Linked DNA regions of Homo sapiens. The protein of the gene in region 1 purifies or fractionates together with the protein of each later gene. This does not show direct contact. Each region holds a gene or a part of one and is shown on either strand. Other genes may lie near its edges.

What was found. Proteins that work in one complex are often made in the same cells at the same time.
Region 2: the proteins of PNLDC1 (region 1) and DPY19L4 purify together in Homo sapiens (affinity purification with mass spectrometry; 2 studies listed by BioGRID and IntAct, with this or other methods). This does not show direct contact.
Region 3: the proteins of PNLDC1 (region 1) and DIPK1A purify together in Homo sapiens (affinity purification with mass spectrometry; 2 studies listed by BioGRID and IntAct, with this or other methods). This does not show direct contact.

Annotation. Positions count from the first base shown.
Region 1 is NC_000006.12:159,810,020-159,817,305, reverse strand, and holds part of PNLDC1 (poly(A)-specific ribonuclease PNLDC1), read right to left. Parts: intron 7,284-7,286; coding exon of another isoform or gene 7,281-7,283; coding exon 7,211-7,280; intron 5,606-7,210; coding exon 5,520-5,605; intron 3,706-5,519; coding exon 3,650-3,705; intron 1,338-3,649; coding exon 1,273-1,337; intron 764-1,272; coding exon 710-763; intron 198-709; coding exon 155-197; intron 1-154. UniProt on the Homo sapiens protein: 3'-exoribonuclease that has a preference for poly(A) tails of mRNAs, thereby efficiently degrading poly(A) tails.
Region 2 is NC_000008.11:94,715,886-94,723,096, forward strand, and holds the start of DPY19L4 (probable C-mannosyltransferase DPY19L4), read left to right. Parts: upstream 1-4,014; 5' UTR 4,015-4,113; coding exon 4,114-4,129; coding exon of another isoform or gene 4,130-4,351; intron 4,352-7,211. UniProt on the Homo sapiens protein: Probable C-mannosyltransferase that mediates C-mannosylation of tryptophan residues on target proteins.
Region 3 is NC_000001.11:92,846,266-92,853,551, forward strand, and holds part of DIPK1A (divergent protein kinase domain 1A), read right to left. Parts: intron 4,691-7,286; coding exon 4,583-4,690; intron 1,095-4,582; coding exon 918-1,094; intron 1-917.

The sequences.
Region 1 (7,286 bases):
TGCCCAGTCAGGGACAAGATTTCTATACCAGTGACACCTCACATTCTCCCTTCTTTGGTAGAACCCTGGGACTGGAGAGGTGTTGGCTTCCAGCAAGGGCTCAATAAATCCTGACCACCGATTGAACAGTAGGATGAAAAGAAAGAACACTTACTGGTATATCTTCTGTAGAAGCAAGTGTGCCACTTTCAAAAGAACTAGGAAGGAAAAAAGACAGAAATGCAATAGAGCTTATCAAAATGTGCATGCTTATGCTTTATCTCATTATGTGCAAGCCAATCTGAAATAAATGTAGAATCTAGGGACGGCAGGGGCATACTGCCAACAAAAAGTAAGTCTCCAGCTGGGTGTGGTGGCTCATGCCTGTAATCCCAGCACCTTGGGAGGCCGAGGCGGGTGGATTGCTTGAACCCAGGAGTTTGAGACCAGCCTGGGCAGCATGGTGAAACCCCATCTCTACAAAAAATACAAAAATTAGCCAGGTGTGGTGGCATGCACCTGTATTCCCAGCCAGGCATGGTGGCATGCACCTGTAGTCCCAGCTACTCGGGAAGCTGAGGTGGGAGGATCACCTGAGCCCAGGAGGTAGAGGCTGCAGTGAGCCGAGATCCTCACCACTGTACTCTAGCCTGGGCAACAGAGTGAGACCCTGTCTCAGAAAAAAAAAAAAAAAAAGTGAGTTTCCTTTTAAAGGAACCGCAATCCTTACCTGACCCACAGAGGAAGGCATCATACGCGGCTTCGTGGGGGCACTTTGTCTCAACTGAGGCATTTTCCACCAGGAGGACAGAGAATTGAGCAGTCATTAGAAACACGCCCCATCCTAGCTCACCATCCACAGTGGCTGCAGCTCATACAACCTCCCATGGTCCTGCATACCCTTCTCCAGGCCCACACACCAACTTCACCTTGGTCCTCCCCACGGTGGAGAAAGCCCCAAGATCAGAGCTGCCTTATAGACTAAGGACCACATTAAGGAGGAAATGGACAACTCCCAGGGCTCTTGGATGCATTCTGGGCTCGCTCATTTGGGGCAGGAGTTACATGGAGTAAGCAGAGTGAAGGAAAACCCCACACAAACCTCCCCCTCCCCTGCTGCCTGGGGCGGGGCAGGGGGAGAGGTGGGGGGGAGGGGAGGGGTGTGGGGGGGTGGGGAGGGGTGTGGCGGGTGGGTGGGGAGGGGTGTGGGGGAACCAGGGTCAAGGACAAGCTCAGCTGAGCACCTCAGCACTCTGCCGACTGTGCAAGGATTATGGGCTCATGGGAACGTACCATATTTCTCACACCTGCTCGCGTGAACAATCTCTGGTCCAGAATTCTTGGTGGGATTCAAGTCACTATTGGAAAAGAAAAATAGAATAAAAAACAATTTGCTGAAAGTAATCCCTTCTTGTATTCCCCCTCAGTCCCTTAAGTTAATATAAATTTTTTAAATGTACTGAGGACATATCTTTAAGGTGCAAATCTAAGCATGGACAGGTAAGATCTTAGTAACTGGGCAACAGGAAAGGGGAAAGAACAATGGTGCAGGAGGCCCCAGTGGAGTTACTCCAGGCATTTATCAAATGCTTCACTTGAGCCCAGGCACCAAGATAGACAAGATACTGTCTCTGTCCTCCGGAGCTGTCTAGTGGCCTGTCTAGCGACTACGGAGACAATTATGCCTGCCTCTTGTAAATGCAAGGCCTGAGGCATGACAGTCACGCCAGGACCCTGCAGGCTTCTGGAGGCAGACAGCACTCATGGAGAGTCCCAAACCACATGATCCAATGGAGTTCAAGGAATGGGGAGACGGCAGGCATTTCGAGCAGGCAAAGACAGTGAGGAAAAGGAGGAGGTCTGACCCCAGAAGCAGTGAGCTGAGAAGTGGGGCTGAAGCCTTTGTGTGAAGGGAGGGCCAAGAGGGTGGGGAGGAGCCCCTACAACAGGCAGGGGCTTCAGAAACCACAGAAAGACTGATCAGAAAAAAGAGCCCATTCAAATTCACATTCTAGATCATCACTCAAGGGGCGGTGTGGGGTATGAAGAGGGCAGGCCACAAGGCTGGGACACCACTCAGGGGCTACTACCACAGTTCCTTGGTTGGAATGAAAAGACAATAATCCTGAGAATGCAGAGAAAGGAGAGGTTTGAGAGACTTACAGGGTCAAGTCCATAAAACTTGACTCAACAGATGTGAGCAACTCAGCTCTGTGACCCCTTCTAGGTCTTGGCTCCAGGACCTGGGTGAATGGAGATGGTGTGTGACAAGGAAACCTTTGCTTCACTGGTTTTCAATAAGATGTTCTGGAACCTCACGTGCTTAGCCTCCTGACCCCTAATGTCCCCATCTGTAAAACAGGCGTCGTCGTCGTGGGTGTGCCATGAGCTGTCCTTTAGGATTGGGATAGTTGTCAACAGCAGCTAAGGTTCAACAGACCTGGACTACATGCAAGGGGCTGTTCTAAGTCCTTCCACATCTACAAACTCATTTAATCCTCACAACAACCTTGGAGTTACACACTATTTTCTCATCTCACAGATAGTTAAACTGAGGCACAGAGAGATTAAGTAATTCTCTCAAGGTCACTCACAGAACCAGTGAGTGGCAAAGCTGGGATTTAAACCCAGGAAGCCTGGAATCAGAGCCTGTGCATTTACAACAAAGCTCTCTCCCCGCTTTGCCCTCTCATGCACACACAGCCCTCAGTATCATGCCTGGTACCATCAAGACTTCTGAATTTGCAGGCACTAGAGTGTGCTTGAGGGACAGAGAGGAGGGTCAAGTTGAAGGTGCCCATAGGTCATGTAGGGTGGGAACATCAAGAAGACAGCTGGTAAACGCAGTGTCCTAGATGCTGAGGTCTGGACCGCAGCGGTACACAGGAGCTGGGAGTTGAAGCCCAGGGGGTGGATGAGGCCACATGGGAGCCTAGGAATGAGCAGGAACACGGTTGAGGAGGGGCCCTTGAGAGAAAACGTAGGAGACAGGTAGAGAACACGAATCACAAGGAATGGGTTTTAAAAAATCGCACACACACATCCAGAACAGGGTGCCATCCCTGTTCCAAACGCCTCTCGTGCCTCGTCCTGCTGACTGGGGACAGACTGGCGGCTCTGGGTGCCCCTGCGGAGAGCAGAGTGAAGGAGACAAGGCCCTGCCTGCCGTGGGCTGAGGAAAGAGGAGCATAGAGAGTTCAGGAGGCTTTGTCGTTAAGTTGGGAGAACACTTGTTGATGTGGAAGGAAATGAGAGGGAGACAGAAAGAGGTGGAGACACCCCGGGAAGGGGCAGGTAGGGGTGGGGAGTTGCTGAGCAGGGGTGAAGGTGACGAGTAGGTGGCAGCTCCTCCTGCCTGGCCTTGCACAGGGAAGGTGCTCCATTTGCTGGTGACAGGGGCGAGACAATGAAAAAGGGGACAGTAATCGCGCAACTGTTTGAGGGGCAGGGGTTGAGAGATTTCCTGTCTCTGGCTTCTCTCTCTTTGGAAACGGAGGCAAGAGGGTCATCGGAGGAAGGGGGCCATGAAGCAGGAGGAGCTGGAGGAGACCAAGTCCCAAGCAGGCATCACTGTGAATGGTGGGCACGCCTAGAGAGCCCAAAGGCCTGCGGAGCACAGGGAGGCCACCAAGGCCGCTCCAGCAGTAGCTCCAGGAATCGCCGTCCTCACCTGTTCAGGACTTCATAGACTTCCGAAAGATTCGACACCCTCGGGAAATTCATCTCCTACAATCATGGAAAACAAACCAGAGGAAAACATTTGCGCTTTTGTTTATTCTCTGTTTCAGGCAGTACCAAATGGTCATTAAAATGGCCTGGAAAATGCTCACTCCTACAACCTCCTCTTTCTCTTCAAATGGTGCAACCATCCTTATTCCTTAGTTAGGATGTCAGGGTACGCAGTATTCCTGGGTTTCCTAGAAGGACTCTCAAAAACCTAGGCTAGAAAAAAACTCTACACACACTATCTCCCTTAGAAAATGTGTTCAACAGATTACCCATAAACACAGGAAAGCAAGGCACGAGGACAAAGGCCAGGGACATACATGGAGCATACAGGCATTCTAAGGCCTAGAGGGCTTTGGGGCAATGCCTGGTTACTAAATCCTAAAAGTTCATAGTAGCTGGAAATACACCAACTACAAATAATAACAGCCTCTGGGCAAAGACAGACCACAGACCCCACTCCCATCTGTGCGGCATCCTTGCTGGATAATTCACTTGTAAGGGATCACTCTAAGGCTTCACAAGATTGATCTGATGCCCCCTTCTCTGTTCTTCAGTTGTTGTTTTTTTTCCCCTTGAGACAGGGTCTTCCTCTGTTGCCCAGGCTGGAATACAGGGGTGCAATCTCGGCTCACTGCAATCTCCACTTCCCGGGCTTTAAGTGATCCTCCCACTTACGCCTCCCAAGTAGCCAGGACTGGAGGTGTGCACCAACATGCCCAGGTAATTTTTGTATTTTTTGTAGAGATGGAGTTTCACCCATGTTGCTCAGACTAGTCTCAAATTCCTGGGCTCAAGCCATTCACCCACCTCAGCCTCCCAAAATGCTGGGATTACAGGTGTGAGCCACTGTGCCTGGCTATTCTCAGCTTCGTTTCTAAGCAGCATTTAAACCAGTCAGGTCGCTTTTCTCTATGCATAGTACACAGCCTCGACTCCACAACAGAATCACCCAGGGAGCTTTAGAAATACCACCTGGCCCCACTCTAGGTCAGACAAAAAGCTGCCAGTGCAGCCTGGCTATCAGCATTTTCAACTTTCCACGTGATTCCAACATGTTTTCAGGACTGAGAACCCATGACTGGAGGGCTCAATGAAGAAGAGGTTTTCTCAAGATTCTTCAGGAGGGAACCCCCTCCCCCCCAGTGCTCTGTACACATGTTGCAAATATTCCTAAGGCATGCATCAAGTTCTAAAATAAGTTGTTCTGTTGTCTGATCTAAATAAGCACAAAAACTCTACACAAATAAGTCAAAATGTGGAAACTGGAGGGAGAGAAAGGGAATAAGTCATATATAAGCTAATACAATGATGCACAGGTGCCAAAATACAAAAGGAAACTGATACTGGTTTGAAGAGAGAAAAGCAATCAAGGAACAACTTTAAAAAACACAAGTGGCAGGCCGGGCGCAGTGGCTCACCCCTGTAATCCCAGCACTTTGGGAGGCCGAGGCGGGTGGATCATGAGGTCAGGAGATCAAGACGATCCTGGCTAACATGGTGAAACCCCGTCTTTACTAAAAATACAAAAAAATTAGCAGGGCATGGTGGTGCGCACCTGTAATCCCAGCTACTCAGGAGGCTGAGGCAGGAGAATCGCTTGAACAAGGGAGTCAAAGGTTGCAGTGAGCTGAGATCGCGCCATTGCACTCCAGCCTGGCTTTGAGAGCAAGACTCCCTCTCAAACAAAACAAAACAAAACAAAACAAAACAAAAAAAACAAAAAAACACAAGAAAAAAACCCCACAAGAGAAAGCTAAGTGTTACTGGTATGGAAAAAGCAGTTCTTAACCCAAAGCAGTTCTATTCATTACCTTCCAGATATCCTTTGTTACACTCTTGGTATCAATGAGAACAGGAAATAGGCTGTGGATATTCTGCTTAAATTGATCGTAGCTTTCTGAGGGGAAAAACCCAGGTAGTCAAGAGTGAATTTGTTTGTTGGCAAAAATGGGAAGGAACATTCTTGAACCTAGCTTGCCACTGGCACTGATTAATAAAGCAAACTGAAACAAAACAGGAATTGAAAACACCATTAATCCTAGCCACTAAGGATTTCTAAACTCAGATCAAGCTGCCATCACCACTTTTAATAGTAAAGGCCGAACGGTTTTCTATTAAATTCAGGATGCATTCTATTGCCAACCGTAGTTAATGTAGTTTGCGAAGCTCTAGCCGATGGGATAAGACTTAAAAATAGAAGTATTATCAGAAAGGCAGACATGATATCATTTGTAAATAATTGCTCAGAGAAAAATCCAAGAAAAAAAATCAAAAATTATAACTAGTAAAGTGTCCTGATAAAAGAAAATTTATGCAAGAACTCAGTTGGTAAAGTTATCAGTTATACCTGCACCTAAAGAGGTTTATTGCAAAACACACACACTAAAAACAAAACCCTGTGATCTCTTCCCGCTACTCTCCCATTTCCTACTCCCCAAAGGCAACCACTCGCAGTTCTTTTCCTTTTGGTATTTATTCCCATCTCTCTCGCACATGCATGGTGTGGTGTTAGACACCTCACTCCCGACCTCCCACCGGCTGAGAGGGTGATGACCCCTCTCATTCCACCTCCACACACATGCCCGTATCGCCCCACGCGCGTCATTCACAAAAGGCTCTGTGGTGGCTACAATGACTTCTCCTTTCTTGCACAGCTTTTGTTCTCCCAGCGCTTATTTTGTTGTACTTAGTTTTTTGGTGAATGTGTATTATTAATTTCACTGCTAATTCTCCAACTCTCTCAATATGCCCAAACTCAGGTGTTTCATTGTTTCTTGGGGAAATGGCTCCTAAAACTTTCTTACCCCTCGTAATCTAGACTAGTGTTCTTTGTACGTTTATTAATTCATTTAATCTCACAACTCTGATATTGGCACTATTATCCCAATCTTACAATTAAGGTAATGTCAACTCGCTGGAGACTACGCACGTAGTGAGTGTGGGATGGATGAGATCACCAAGGCTCGAGGCCCCACTTTACCCACTAGGCTGCACCACTGAATGTCCAATAATGGAATCAACCATGAAACAGTAGGGGACAGCCAGAAGACAGTGTCACATGACACTGAAGCAGCATTTATTAGGTTTTTAACAACATAAAATAATGCTTTGGGTAAGTGGAAAAAAAGCCAAACAAAAATCAAATAGTGTAATCAAATATGTAAAAATTCAGGATACTAGCTGATTAAAGGTGACTTCTGACTTCATGCATTTCTGATTTTGCCAAGCTTCATACAATAACTCTGAACAGCTTCAGTAATGGGGAGAGGGGTATCAATTCAAATTTAAATTTTTTCCCCCTTGACAAAGTCTCCTGGTTTTCCACTCTGGGGAGACAGTAACAGATCAGAGTACAGGCCTCTGCCCAAACTCTCCAGAAACCTGCAGACACTGGGGAGGAATGGGCATTTTAGGAGCTGCCTCAGGGGTATGATTGTGTACCAATCCCTCTGCCAGATGGCAAACTAGCGTGAAGGAAGAGAAATGACAGGTTTGCCCCTACCTGGGAGGGGTCTGAAGAACTTCTCATGGAGGTGCAGCAGGTCCATCATCATATTATGTCCCACTAAGGGCTACTT
Region 2 (7,211 bases), on another chromosome or scaffold:
CAGCTAATTTTTTTATTTTTAGTAGGGACGGGGTTTTGCCATGTTGGCTAGGCTGGTCTTGAACTCCTGACCTCAGGTGATCCGCCCGCCTCCGCCTCCCAAAATGCTGGTATTACAGGCATGAGCCACCGGGATTACAGGCAGGAGCCACTTGGGAGCCCAAGGTGGGCGGATCACCTGAGGTCAGGAGTTCGAGACAAGCCTGACCAACGTGGTAAACCCCATCTCTACTAAAAATAGAAAAAACTTAGCTGGGAGTGGTGACAGGCACCTGTAGTCCCAGCTACTCAGGAGGCTGGGACAGGTGAACCCCATCTCTACTAAAAATAGAAAAAACTTAGCTGGGCGTGGTGACAGGCACCTGTAGTCCCAGCTACTCGGAAGGCTGGGACAGGAGAATTGCTTGAACCCGGGAGGCAGAGGTTGCAGTGAGCCGAGATCGAACCACTGCACTCCAACCTAGATGACAGAGTGAGACTCCGTCTCAAAAAAAAAAAAAAGATTTTAATCAACAGATAATTAATATTTTATTACATAATAAAGATGAAACACAATTCCATATCTTTCATAGAAGCTGAACCGACACAAGGATTTCTAACTAATTATGTTCTTTTACTACTAATGAGGTGAAGCATATGCCAGAATAATGTTTCTTGTTTTTTGTTTTTTTGCTGCTGTTGTTTTTTTGACAGGGTCTCATTCTCAGCCAGGCTTGAGTGCAGTGGCTTGATCACAGCTCACTGCAGCCTCAACCTCTTTGGCTCAGGTGATCCTCCCACCTCAGCCTCCCAGGTAGCTGGAACTACAGGTGCACGCCACCATGCCCAGCTATTTTTTGTATTTTTTAGTAGTGGCGGGGCTTCACCATGTTGCCAAGGCTGGTCTTGAACTCCTGGGCTCGAGCGATCTGCCGGCCTTGGCCTCCCAAAAAGCTGGGATTACAGGCATGAGCCACCTCGATCAGCCTCAGAAGAATGTTTTAAAAATAGACTGCATGTATTTTTTTGGTTTCAAGTAGAGAAGTTTTAAGGCCTTCTGTTTTATATTGTTCTTACATCTTGGCAGCACTTTTTCCTGGGAACATGGAAAGCACATGATTAATTTCAAGATGGAAATATCAGAAATCATGTTCGACTCATCATTTATCACATCCAATTTGTCATCAGGCCCTGTAGATTTCATTTCCAGCATCTTTTGAATTCATTCTCTTTGAACATTTTTATTTTCATTGCCTCATACCAGGCCTTTATTTTCTTACTCAGTTTACTATAAAAGCCTCCTAAACTACATTTGCTAAAGACTTAACTTTTTAAAACAAAGAACATTTCACATTATGTCCTTAAAATATCCATTGCATAGAGAAGAGGTCCTCAAACTTCTAGAGAAGGCGGAAAATCACACGGCTCTTTGAATAGCTCATAAGTAAAAGACAATTTGGGAAAATTTGGGTTCTTTAGGACTGGTCAGGGTGACGCAAAATGTAATGAAATGCTCCTTCACATCTTGCATAAGAAACTAGCAGCCCATGGTTTTGCAGTGATAAAACAATCAGAGTATCGTCTGAAATCATCTTACAACCATATGTCCACTAGCCATCTGGAAACAGCTGGCCTTAGGAATTAGGAAATGGCCTACTGAAAACTCAGCTGTAATGCCTGCTGCAAGGCAACATCTTGAGTAGTTCAGGTTCTAATTCTTCTTGAATGAAATATAGATTTTTAATAAAAACAGCCTATTTTTCTCACAGTAAGATTACACTGGTTTGAGAATAAGATGCTCCACTCTCATTATCCTTATGTGTTTTTTGTTTGTTTGTTTTGTGTGATGGAGTTTCGCTCTTGTTGCCCAGGCTGGAATGCAATGGCATGATCTCGGCTCACCGCAACCTCCACCTCCCAGGTTCAAGCAATTCTCCTGCCTCAGCCTCCCGAGTAGCTGGGATTACAGGCATGCGCCACCACGCCCGGCTAATTTTGTATTTTTAGCAGAGATGGGGTTTCTCCATGTTGGTCAGGCTGGTCTCGAACTCCTGACCTCAGGTGATCCACCTGCCTCAGCCTCCCAAAGTGTTGGGATTACAGGCATGAGCCACCGTGCCCGGCCCTAATGTGGGTTTTTAGGGTTCAAGAGAAGAATGTTTCTACTAGGGCATAATTATCTCTATCTTATCTTATATTTCCATTTGTTATTTTAAGAAGCTATTTTTTTTCTATCATTTTTCTTTCCCCTGTTATTGTAGAGGTCAGGCAAACTTAAAATTTAGTCCATTAGTCAACTTGAGGTGACCGTGAAGAAACTGTAGGATATTAAGACTCTAGACTTAGAAAACAGCAGACCTCAATAGCTACTATATGTTTTCCAAGAGGTGCAGCTCTTTCAGTCAGCTGATCTGATAAGCAGCATACTCAGGTACTGTTGCTCATGTCCAGGGACCCTACCATATCCTGTGGTTTTCAGGGTCCTTATATTCTGTGCTCTCTTGGCTCTGGCACCAGGCCTTTTCTGGTCCACTGTTTCTAACTCCTGGTAAAGTGTTGTTTTAAGGCAAAAAACATCTTTACGGGGAACCAGACATAAAAAGAGTTCCTGGAGGCCCTGCGTGGTAGCTCATGCCTGTAATCCCAGCACTTTGTGGGGCTGAGGCCGGTGGATCACTTGAGGTCAGGATTTCAAGACCAGCCTGGGCAACATGGTGAAACCACACCCCTCCACTTCTCTACTAAAAGTACAAAAAATTATCCGGGCGTGGTGGTGGGCACCTGTAAACCCAGCACTTCGGGGGGCCAAGGTGGGCGGATCACTTGAGGCCAGGAGTTGGAGACTAGCCTGGCCAACCAACATGGTGAAATCCCATCTCTACTAAAAATATGAAAATTAAGTGGTGGCTTGCGCCTGTAGTCCCAGCTACTGGGAAGGCCGAGGCACGAAAATCGCTTTAACCTGGGAGGCGGAGGTTGCAGTGAACCTAGATCGAGTCATTGCATTCCAGCCTGGGCGACAGAGCGAGACTCTGTCTCAAAAAAAAAAAAAAAAAGTTCCTGGAACCGTTTCTGCACATCACTGAAAAATGATAGCCTCTCCCCAAATATCCTAACTTAAAGGTGCTATTAGGAGAATCTTGCTGCCTGCTAATAATGGGGTGTCCATAATTACCCCATGACTTCAGTGAATTCTCGTGCCTGTTTCTCCCGATCTAAAATGGGTATATTTCATTTACTAAATTTACTTCTGAGTACTGTTGGGGAAAAGATCCCGGTGTTTGTTGAAGAATGCTAGATATAATGAAAGTTAAACACAGTTTAACAAATTAAAATTATTCCCTATTGCTCTGTAATATCTAATTGCACACTGCTCTACCCCAGACCATTGTATTATCTCCCCGCCCCCCCCCCCAGAATATCATGAAATGCAACATATTTGCTAAACCAGTTTTGGTGATTTAAAACAAGTTCCAAGCACAAGCTTCTTTCTTGTAATGGTCAAGTGGCCTACGAAACCAAAGCGCCAACTGAGAACGTTTTGCTGCTGCACTCTGAAATCCCAGCGAGAACGCAGGCAGCGATGGCAGTTCTGGAGCACCGGGTTCCACTTCTGCCTCTGACCGGCTTTGTGACTTCCACCACATTAGATCTGAGTTTCCTCCATGTAAAATGGGGCGGGAATGGAGGCTGGACCTGGGAGGTGTCGCTGATGATCGTCTCTGACTCGCTAAGTCGCGGAGTCACAAAAGTGGCGGAAAGCATGCCCTCACTTTTTGGGAAGAGTAGGACGAGGGGCGGGGCTGCAGCGAGACCCACCAGTCTCGCTTTCCAGGGCAGGCGGCGGCCAGGAGCTACAGCTGTGGGCTGCACTCCCGGCGTGGAGTCTCCTTCCTGCCCGCGCAGGCCCCGGCGCCCCAGCGAAACGCTCCGGCCGCTCCCCTCTCCCAACACTCTGGTTCCCGGGCCGCCTGCGGGGACGCGGTTGGCGGCGACACCGGAGGGGGGTGGGTCAGGAAGTGGGGGCGCGGCGGCCAGGAGCGGGCCCCCGGAGGCCGAGGGGTTCGGCGACGCGGAGGGAGGGAGAGTCTGGGCCGCGCGGGAGCCGCAGGGCGCCCTAGCCTTCGCAGAAACGATGGCGGAGGAAGAAGGTGATTGCCGCGGGGTCCAGCGCGCCAACGGCTGCCAGTGGTCTCGGGAAGGAGGGGCGGGGGCGCTGGAGGTCTGGGTTGGAGCTGCTGGTGGCCGCGGTCGCGGTGGCGGCCGCGCGGGCAGGGCGGGAAGGAGCGCGGCGCCCAGGAGAGGACTGCGGAGAAATTCAGGAGAGCGGAGCAAATGGCCCGAAGTTTTGTCGGCCGAATTGGGAAGCAAAGGTGGAGCTGAAAGTTGGGAATCCGTAGCAAGAGAGAAAGCTGTGCCGGGAGTGGTTGGGAAAGAGGGAGGGTCCTGATCAGATTCTTGGTGAAGTGGGAGGCGCAGTTTGGTTTCGAAGATCAGGTTTAGGTACTCAGTGCATATTTGGAATGCGATTTTTAAAGGGCTGTGGATATTGACAAACCCAGAGGCACAGGGGGCGAGGGAACATTCACCACGGGGATAAAGAGGCAGGGATTTGGGATAAACGTGGCAAGATTAATTGGGAATGGGCGAACACGCAGAAACTGAAGAAAGCCAAGTTCACTTAGGTTCAGGGGAAAATGGTAAAGAGCAGAGCCATCTAATTATTATAGTTTTGGGAGATGATGAGGCCAGGAGGCCTTTGAGGGTCAAAGTGGGTGAGCTGGAGAAAGGTTTCCATGCCGCCTTCAGGATCAATGCTAAGATAAGTAATTCATTCAGCAGTATTTTATTTATAGAAAATGATAAGTATGAGACAAAAATGGGAAGTTAGATGAAACTTATCGGTTAGTGATAAACAATACAAGGAATACTCATGGCATAGTAACTTCATGATAACCCCTACTAGTTTCAGGAAGTGAGAAGCAATTAGATTTTTGCATTCTGGTGGAAAACACAACTTTTTACCTTATGAGTGGAGCTGTGGATGTGATAGTAAATCGATCTAATTTAGACTCAAGCCCCCCTGCCTTTTTTTTTTTTGAAACGGAGTTTCGTTCTTGTTGCCCAGTCTAGAGTGCAAAGGCGCGATCTCGGTTCACCGCAACCTCCGCTTCCTGGATTCAAGCGATTCTCCTGCCTCAGCCTCCCTAGTAGCTGGGATTACAGGCATGCGCCATCACGCCCGGTTAATGTTATATTTTGAGTAGAGACGGGGTTTCTCCATGTTGGTCAGGCTGGTCTTGAACTTCTGACCTCAGGTGATCCGCCCACCTCGGCCTCCCAGAGTGCTGGGATTACAGGCGTGAGCCACGGGTCCAGCCGACTCAAGCCTTTCTGAATCAAGAGTGCAAGGAAGGAGTTTAAAGGATTCAGCGGAAAGCAATTTTTAAAAATTAAGCATAAGAAGTGTTTACTGATGTGTGACTTGCTGACCTGTCCCTATGCAGGCTTGGTTCATATTTGTTTCCATTGAGTTTTCAGAGTGTTAAAGCTGGTCTGAATTTAAGACATTCTAACTAAAAACAGCTTCAAAAACAAAGCTATTTGTCGTTGGTGAGAAAGAATGTAATTCCATTTGTTTACTTGGTTCTGTCTGTGGTTACAGTATATCATCATTTGAAATATTTCTTGATGTATTTTTCTTTTCTAATTGCAAATTTATGGGGGTAGGTTGATATACTAGCTTGTAGGTTCCTATGAGTACATTCATGCTTAACTTAAAGCATTAAAAAAGTTAAGACTGCATTAAAAAATCAGTACTACAATACTGAAAGTCTTTAATACATCATGCAAAATGAAAAATTATTTTAGACTATGGTTGTACTTAAATAGATCTGTGGAGCCAATATTAAAAGATTGTACCGTTTTGTAAATTTTACTTACGTGATGTAAAATGATAAATGGGCGGGGCATGATGGCTCATGCCTGTAGTCCCAGCACTTTGGGAGGCCAAGGCGAGTGGATCACTTGAAGTCAGAAGTTCGAGACCAGCCTGGCTAACACAGTGAAACCCCATCTCTACTAAAAATACAAAAATCAGCCGGGTGGAGTGGCAAGTGTCTGTAGTCCCAGCTACTCAGGAGGCTGAGATAGGAGAATCACTTGAACCCGGGAGGCGGAGGTTGCAGTGAGCCAAGATTGCACCATTGCACTCCAGCCTGGGTGACAGAGTGAGACTCCATCTAAAAAAAAATAAAATTAAGGCCGGGCAAGGTGGCTCACGCCTGTAATCCTAACACTTTGGGAGGCCAAGGTGGGCGGATCACGAGGTCAGGAGTTCGAGACCAGCCTGGCCAATATGGTGAAACCCTGTCTCTACTAAAAAATACAAAAGTTAGCCGGGCATGGTGGCGCATGCCTATAGTCCCAGCTACCCGGGAGGCTGAGGCAAGAGAATCGATGGAACCCAGGAGGCCGAGGTTGCAGTGAGACGAGATCGCCCCACTGCACTCCAGCCTGGGTGACAGAGTGAGACTCCCTCTCAAAAATAAAATAAATAAAATGATAAATGATTTTTGGTTGTAGAATTACATATAATTCAAAAGCAGTTAAATACATCTTACATGGGACAATTAATGGGTTGTAATTTATTAAAATATTGCTTTATTCAACACATTTCTAATTCCATAAATATGTGTATTCATACCCTATTAGATGCAAGGATATAATAGTCAACAATGAATGAGTAAATTTTCATTTATTATAATGCTAGTAATAATAATACATATAGCAAACCTGTCTGTCTATGTGCCAGGCATTCTGAGTGTTTTATGTTTATTTGTCACTCTATACTTTTTTTCCCCCAGAATCCGTATTATCTTTTGTTCGCTGTGTTAAAATTAGACTAAATAGTCTGTGTATTTTACTTGTATCCAGGTGTTCTCCGCGTCCCATCTTGCTTACCATTCACATTCACTTGGATCCTCTTCATTGTCCAAGTAAATACTCTGGGAATCTGGTCTTTAAAAAAATGTCTTCCTTGATGCAGTAGAGGGCCAGGGTGTTTATATTTATGCTTTCTGAACGCAATGTTAGAGCAAAGAAAGAAGTGACAACCTTGAGTAGAGCAGTATTAACATTTCACTTGGAAACTGCTATGTCTAGCCTGGATAGACATTTGAAAGTCTGTTTGTAGCCCTACTGTTTCATATGAAGATGACTGGACTGAAGTCT
Region 3 (7,286 bases), on another chromosome or scaffold:
ATGTCTCAGTTATCATTGTGTTGTGAACATTCACAATCCTTTTAGTTTTTTGAAAATAACCAAAAATTATTAATCCCTTTACCCTATAGTGCTATAGAACACTAGAACTTATTCTGCCTATCTAGCGGTAATTTTGTATCTGTTAACCAACCTCTCCTTATTCTCCTCTCCTCTGTACCCTTCCCAGCCTCTAATAGCCACAATTCTAAGAGTATACTCATTTTATTTCACCTTTTTTGAATTAATTTTCATGTCAAACTGTACAGCACTCCAATTAATTAATGAACTCCCTCCTCATATCTGGACATTTTTAGCTATCATAAATAATGTTAAAGTAAACATTCTCCAACACAGATTTCTTTTCTTTTTCTTTTTTTTTTTGAAACAGGGTCTCACTTTGTCGTCCAGGCTGGAGTGCAGTGGTGAGATCTTGGCTCACTGCAACCTCGACCTCCCAGGCTCAAGCAATCCTCGCACCTCAGCATCTCAAGTAGTTAGGACTACAGGCACATGCCACCACTCCTGGCATATATATATATATATATATATATATATATATATATATATATATATATATGTGTGTATATATATATGTGTGTATATATATATATATATATACACACACACGTATATATATATATACGTGTATATATATATATATATAGCTGAGGTCTTACTATGTTGCCCAGGCTGGACTTGAACTCCTGGGCTCAAGTGATCCTCCTGCCTTGGCCTCCCAAAGTGCTGGGATAACAGGCGTGAGCCACCACGCCCGGCCTCTTATAATTATTTCCTCAGGATGGAGAATCTGATAGAGGTCAAAGAATATCAACACTTTAATGGCTTAGGATGAGGTCCTGCCAATTCCTCTAAAGAGTCCCACTTCACACTAGCAACATATGAATGGGTATGCTTACCTTAAAGAGACTATAGACCATTTCTTTAAATTTTTGTACAGTAGTTCCTCTAGTTGGCTTATCAAATAGCACTATTTCTTTTCTTGGTTCCAATTCAGTTCCAAAATCAAGATGAAGCGCTTGTTCCATTTGACATTTCACAACACCTGGTAGATTATCCCAAATCCCTAAATACATCTATGTAAAAAAGAGTGGCAAGTTATGTATTATACTGAGTAGAAAACTCTAAAAAATATACTACTATATTTTTAGGGTCCTCCTCCTCTGAACAAAACAAAACAAGCATCAAACATTGAGGTTAAGGTGTGACTTTATTTCTGAACTGCAAACTTGAAATCACACTCAAGATTTTTTCCTTAAACTAATTTTTTAAATTATAAGAGTAATGCATGCCTAAATATATTTTTCAAAAAGTCCAATGAGAAGGATGTAAGGCAAAAGCAAAGTTCCCAGACATTCTACTTCCATAATCCCACTTCCCCAGAATTAACTACTATTTAAGTATCTAGTTATTTATCAAACTAATATTATATAGTGTTAACTATGTCCTATGGTCTACTAATTTATTTTAGAGACAGGGTCTTGCTTTGTCACCCAGGCTGGGGTTCAGTGGCATAATCATAGCTCATTGCAGCCTCAAAGTCCTGAGCTCAAGGAATCTTCCTGCCTCAGTCTCCCAAGTAGCCAGGACTATAGGCATGTACCACTAAACCTGGCTAATTAAAAACATTTTTTGTAGAGATGGGGTCTTGCTGTATTGCTCAGGCTGGTCCTGAACTGCTAGCCTTAAGTGACCCACCTGCCTCAGCCTCTCAAGTTGCTGGGATTGTAGGTATGAGGCACCACACCTGGCTTTTACTGATTTATGTTATTATTTTAATCCTTGTACCAATCTTAGGTGGTAGGTACTATCATTATACTTATTTCACTGATGGGGAAACTGAAGCAGATACAGGTGAAGTAACATGCTGAAAAGAGCTGAGGTCTTTACCACTAGGATAGGTTGCCCCTCTTCTACATAAAAAAATAAATAAGATCATATTCATTCTTAATATTAATCCAAAGAAAACATTATTTCACTGCCTTGCTCCAAACCCTCTAATAAATTCCCCTTTCAATTAAAGTCCAAAGTCCTTTCCATGACCGGTTGGGCTCCATTTGAGCTAGCCTCGCCTATGTCTCCAACCTGATCTTGTACCACGTACTCCGTTTCTCAAAGTCCCAGCTACACTGGTCTTTCTGTGACAGGTTGAAGCTTGTTTCTGCTTCCTGACCTGCTTCACTTGCTGCTGGCTCTGCCTGGAATGTACTCTCCCAGATCTTCACATGGCTGGCTCCTTTACATCATTCAAGTCTCAGATTAGACATTGCATTTAGAAAGCCTTCCCTGACCCCCTGTCTAGAAGAGATCCTCTTCCACCCCCAGGTCACCTCTAACCCTGTTTCATTATCCTCATAGCCTTTTGCACTGTCTAAAATTATCATATTTATTTATTTATCAGTTCATTACTATCTGTCTCATCTCACATTAGAACATGAGGCCAGAGGCTTTATCTGTCTCCCTCAGTGCCTCAAACAGTGCCTGGCATGCAGGAGACACTCAAATGTTGGACTTTGTTTTAGAAATTGTCTTTAACATGATTAATACTGTCAACTGAAAAATTAGTTTAAATTTCTATAATAATAATGCATATTTATATAGGAAAATTTAGGAACCATAAGATGAACATTAAAATGCAATTTTCCACTGCTCCAGATGTTTCGTTGTATTTTCTTCTACCCCAATTAGATATTCTACTGTTTTATTCTTATTTCTCTGATGAAAAGTAAGGTAGAATTTTTTTTCATTATGTTCATCAGCTGTTTGCAGTTCTTTTGTGATTTAGTTCATCCTGTCCTTTTCCCATGCCTATGAATTTTTTATTAAGGTATAAGTTCAAATATTATTTCAGAAAGGTCTTCTCTGATCACATCCTCTAAAGCACTTCTCACCATCCCTTACACTGCATTCTCTATCAATTTGCCCTCTGTGTCTCCTACAGAACACACCATATTCTACAATTATTTTGTTTGTTTATTTATTTATTTATCAACTGTTTGTACCTCCTGTCCCTCTGGAATCATGTAAGGTCTGTAAGGGAAGCAATCTTGTCTGGTTTTTTTTTGTTTTTTTTTTTTTTTTTGAGACAGGGTGTCACTCTGTCACCCAGGCTGGAGTGCAGTGACATGAACACGGCTCACTGCAGCCCTGACCTCCTGGGCTCAAGTGATTGTCCCACCTCAGCCTCCCGAGTAGCTGGGACCATAGGTGTGTGCCACCACACCCAGCTAATACATATATATTTTTTGAGACAGTCTCGCTCTATTGTCCAGGCTGGAGTGCAGTGATGTGAGATCTTGGCTCACTGGAACCTCCGCCTCCCAGGTTCAAGCGATTCTTGTGCCTCAGCCTCTGGAGTTGCTGGGATTACAGGCATGTGCCACCACACCCGGCTAATTTTTTGTGTTTTTAGTAGAGAGGGGGTATCGCAATGTTGCTCAGGTTGGTCTTGAATGCCTGGCCTCAAGTGACCTACCGCCTCAGCCTCCCAAAGTGCTGGGATTACAGGTGTATGCCACTGTGCCTGGCCACCCAGCTAATTTTTGTATTTTTTGTAGAGACAGGGTTTTGCTATGTTGCTCAGGTAGGCCTCAAACTCCTGGACTAAAGCAATCCACCCACCTTGGCCTCCTGAAGTGCTGGGATTACAGGCCCGTGCCACGGGCCCGGCTGTTTGTATTTTTTTATTTTTATTTTTTATTTTTTGAGACACTCACTCACTCTGTCACCCAGGCTGGAGTGCAGTGGTGGGACCATAGCTCACTGCAGCCTCAACCTCCTGGGCTCAAGCAATCTTCCCACTTCAGCCTCCTGAGTAGCTAGAACCACAGGTGTGTGCCACCACACCTGGCATTTTTTTTAAATTTTGGAGAGACAGGGTCTCACTACATTGCCCAGGCTGGTCTCAGACTCCTGGGCGCAAGTGGTCCTCCCATCTCAGCCTCCCAAAGTGTTGGGATTACATGCGTGAGCCACCGCACCAGGTTGCCTTAATCACCATTGTATTCCTGGTAACTGAAACAGCATCTAACATCAAAGTGCTGACAGAAAAAAAAAAACAAAACAAAACAGTGTCTGGAATATACTGGGGATAGATTAATAAATATCTTTTGACTGGCCAGGTGTGGTGGCTGACATCTATAATCCCAGCACTTTGGAAGGCCAAGGCGGGTGGATTGCTTGAGCTCAGGAGTTCGAGACCAGCCTGGGCAACATGGCGGGACTCTGTTTCTACAAAAATACAAAAAATTAGCCAAGTGTGGTTGTGTGAGCCTGTAGTCCCAGCTACATGGGAGGCTGAGGTGGGAGGCTCACTTGAGCCTGGGAAGTGGAGGTTGCAGTGAGCAGAGATCTCACCACTGTACTCCAGCCTGGACAACAGATCCTGTCTCAAAAAATTAAAATAAAATAAATGTCTGTTTAATGAATGAATCAAAGCATACAAAATTGAAATACATATAATGTCTCAAAGCTTTGGTTCAAGAATTCTTTTAATAATGCCTTTAATTTCTGGTAAAATTAGAGTACACTATAATTCTGGAATGTTTATTCATAATGGCCATACCTGATTGTTGGGCTTGGTGGATAAACATTTTCCAAAGTAAAGAGTTTCTGTAACACAAAGGCTGTTACATGCAGGCCCATCAATAACTCCAGTCTTGTACTTGTCACACTAAAAACCAGGAAATAAAAAAGTAGTTAATAGAAAAATATTCACAAGAAGAAGCATAAAGAGATATCTATATCCTTTATGAGTAAGTTCTATGACAAAAAGAACTGAGGCTTTGGACTTAGACAGACCTGGATTTGATCTAAGCTCTGTTACTTATACCTATATGATTATGAGAAAGCTTGTTGCTGCTGGGGTGTGCGTAGAATTTTGAAACTATTTTTCCCACATGACATGGTCTAAGGTGGTATGTTACCTACTCCTTCCAAGAATAGAGGCACTCTATCTTTAAAAATGGTTCCGGTTTTAGGCCAGGCACCGTGGCTCACGCTTGTAATCCCAGCACTTTGGGAGGCCGAGGCTGGTGGATCATTTGAGGTCAGGAGTTCGAGACCAGCCTGGCTAACATGGTGAAACCCCATCTCTACTAAAATAAAAAAATGAGCCAGGCGTGGTGGCGGGCGCCTGTAATGCCAGCTACTCGGGAGGCTGAGGCAGAAGAATCACTTGAGCCTGGGAGGCAGAGGTTGTGGTGAGCCGAGATCATGCCACTGCACTCCAGCCTGGGTGAGAGAGTGAGACCCTATCTCAAAAAAAAAAAAAAAAAAAACTTCTGGTTTTAAAATAAATAAAGTTTAGAATAACAAAATAAAGTTACCTCTGTCACATTGTCATCCTTGAGATCACCCAAAAACAAGAAAGGGAAAAAAACCCATCCACTCTCTGAAAAAATATGGTACCAATGAAACCCTAGGCACAATAAATGAGGATGACCTGCCAAATTCAGTGAAGATTACACCAGAGCCTACAAGTATGCTGAGATTAAACACCTGCTGTGGTCCCCACTCTCAGACAAAGTTGGCAGAGCACCAAGTAGGTGGTACATCTGCAGAGCACAACCATTATCCTGGTTGCAACAAAGATTTAAGGGGCACAAGCTGTGGGAACTTCCCAGAACTCTATTTGGCACCATGAAATAGTAAGATAAGACAGGCCTGAATGATAAAATGCTCAGAAATGTTCTCTTTGCTGGAGGCAGTCTGTTGATGAACTACGGTTGGGAGAGAGGGCCAGAAGCAGCTTCACTACCAGCTCAGTTCACTGCCCAGTTGCTTCCCGCACATGGCTGGCTGAAGGAGACCTCATTTCACTCAGTAATGAGTAATAATCAAAACCAAACAAGCAAAAGATCTATACAGCAAATCTACAAGAATTAGGAAGAATGGAATAGGAAAAGCAAATGTCAGATAAAAAAAATTTTCTAGGCAGGGTGCAGTGGCTCACGCCTATAATCCCAGCACTTTGGGGGGCCGAGGCAGGTGGATCACCTGAGGTCAGGAGTTCGAGACGAGCCTGACAAACATGGAGAAACCCCGCCTCTACTAAAAATACAAAATTAGCTGGGCGTGGTGGCGCATGCCTGTAATCTCAAGTATTCAGGAGGCTGCGGTGGAAGAGTCGCTTGAACCCTGCGGGGGCGGAGGTTGCAGTGAGCCGAGATCACACCATTGCACTCCAGCCTGGGCAAGAAGAGCGAATCTCCGTCTCAAAAAAAAAGAAAAAAATTTCTAGAAGAATGTTGCTATGAAACAGACCAAACATATTGTTATGAATTTAAAGGACTTACTGAACCAGTTTAAAATAAGACTTCAAAGCAGAAGAAATGATGAGGCAATAGAAGGAAGTTTAAAATAAGCTAACAGAACTCAGACAGGAAGGAAAATAAAACATCTAGAAATAAAAGCCACATTATAAATGAGGGGAAAGACAGACAGGGATAAAACACAGTAAGATTTAGGAGGACTAGGCCAGGCGTGGTGGCTCATCCCTGTAATAACAGCACTTTGGGAGGCTGGGCAGGCAGATCGCTTGAGCTCAGGAGTTCAAGAGCAGCCTGGGCAATACAGCAAGACCCCATCTCTACAAATAATACAAAAGAATTAGCTGGGTTTGGGGGCACATATATGTAGTACTAGCTACTTGGGAGGCTGAGGTAGGAGGATCGCTTTAGCCTGGGAGGCAGAGGTTGCAGTGAGCCAAGATCACACGACTGTACTCCAGCCTGGGTGACAGAGTGAGACCCTGTCTTAAACAAACAAAAACAATAACAACAACAAAAAACTTTGGAGGACAAGGTTGAGAAATGCAAGCAAAATGAAATGGAAATTTAAAAATAATAAAATGAATTTAAGATAAATGTATAGATAAAAAAGACAAAGTATATCCACCATGTCCATATGAAGGAGAATGGGAACTGAAGGAGAATGGGAACAAGTGGAAAAGAAAAAATATTCAAAGTAGAATTCAAGGGAAACTTCACATAAATTAAAACACTTTAATCTATAGATTGAAAGGACATACAATGAATGTCCCAAGAAAAACTGACAAGAATGACCCCTGTGACATATCCCACTGAGGTTCACTGGACTTCAAAAATAAGTTATCCTTTGAGCATCCAGGCAAAAAGATCAAGGCACCTTTAAGGGGAAACCAATCAGATTGGCCCCAGATTTCTCCATAGCCACATTCAATAGTAGACAACAGTGGTGCAATGCCAGCGGAGGCTTTGGGGAAGGAAGTGAGACTCGCCTGTGTCCTA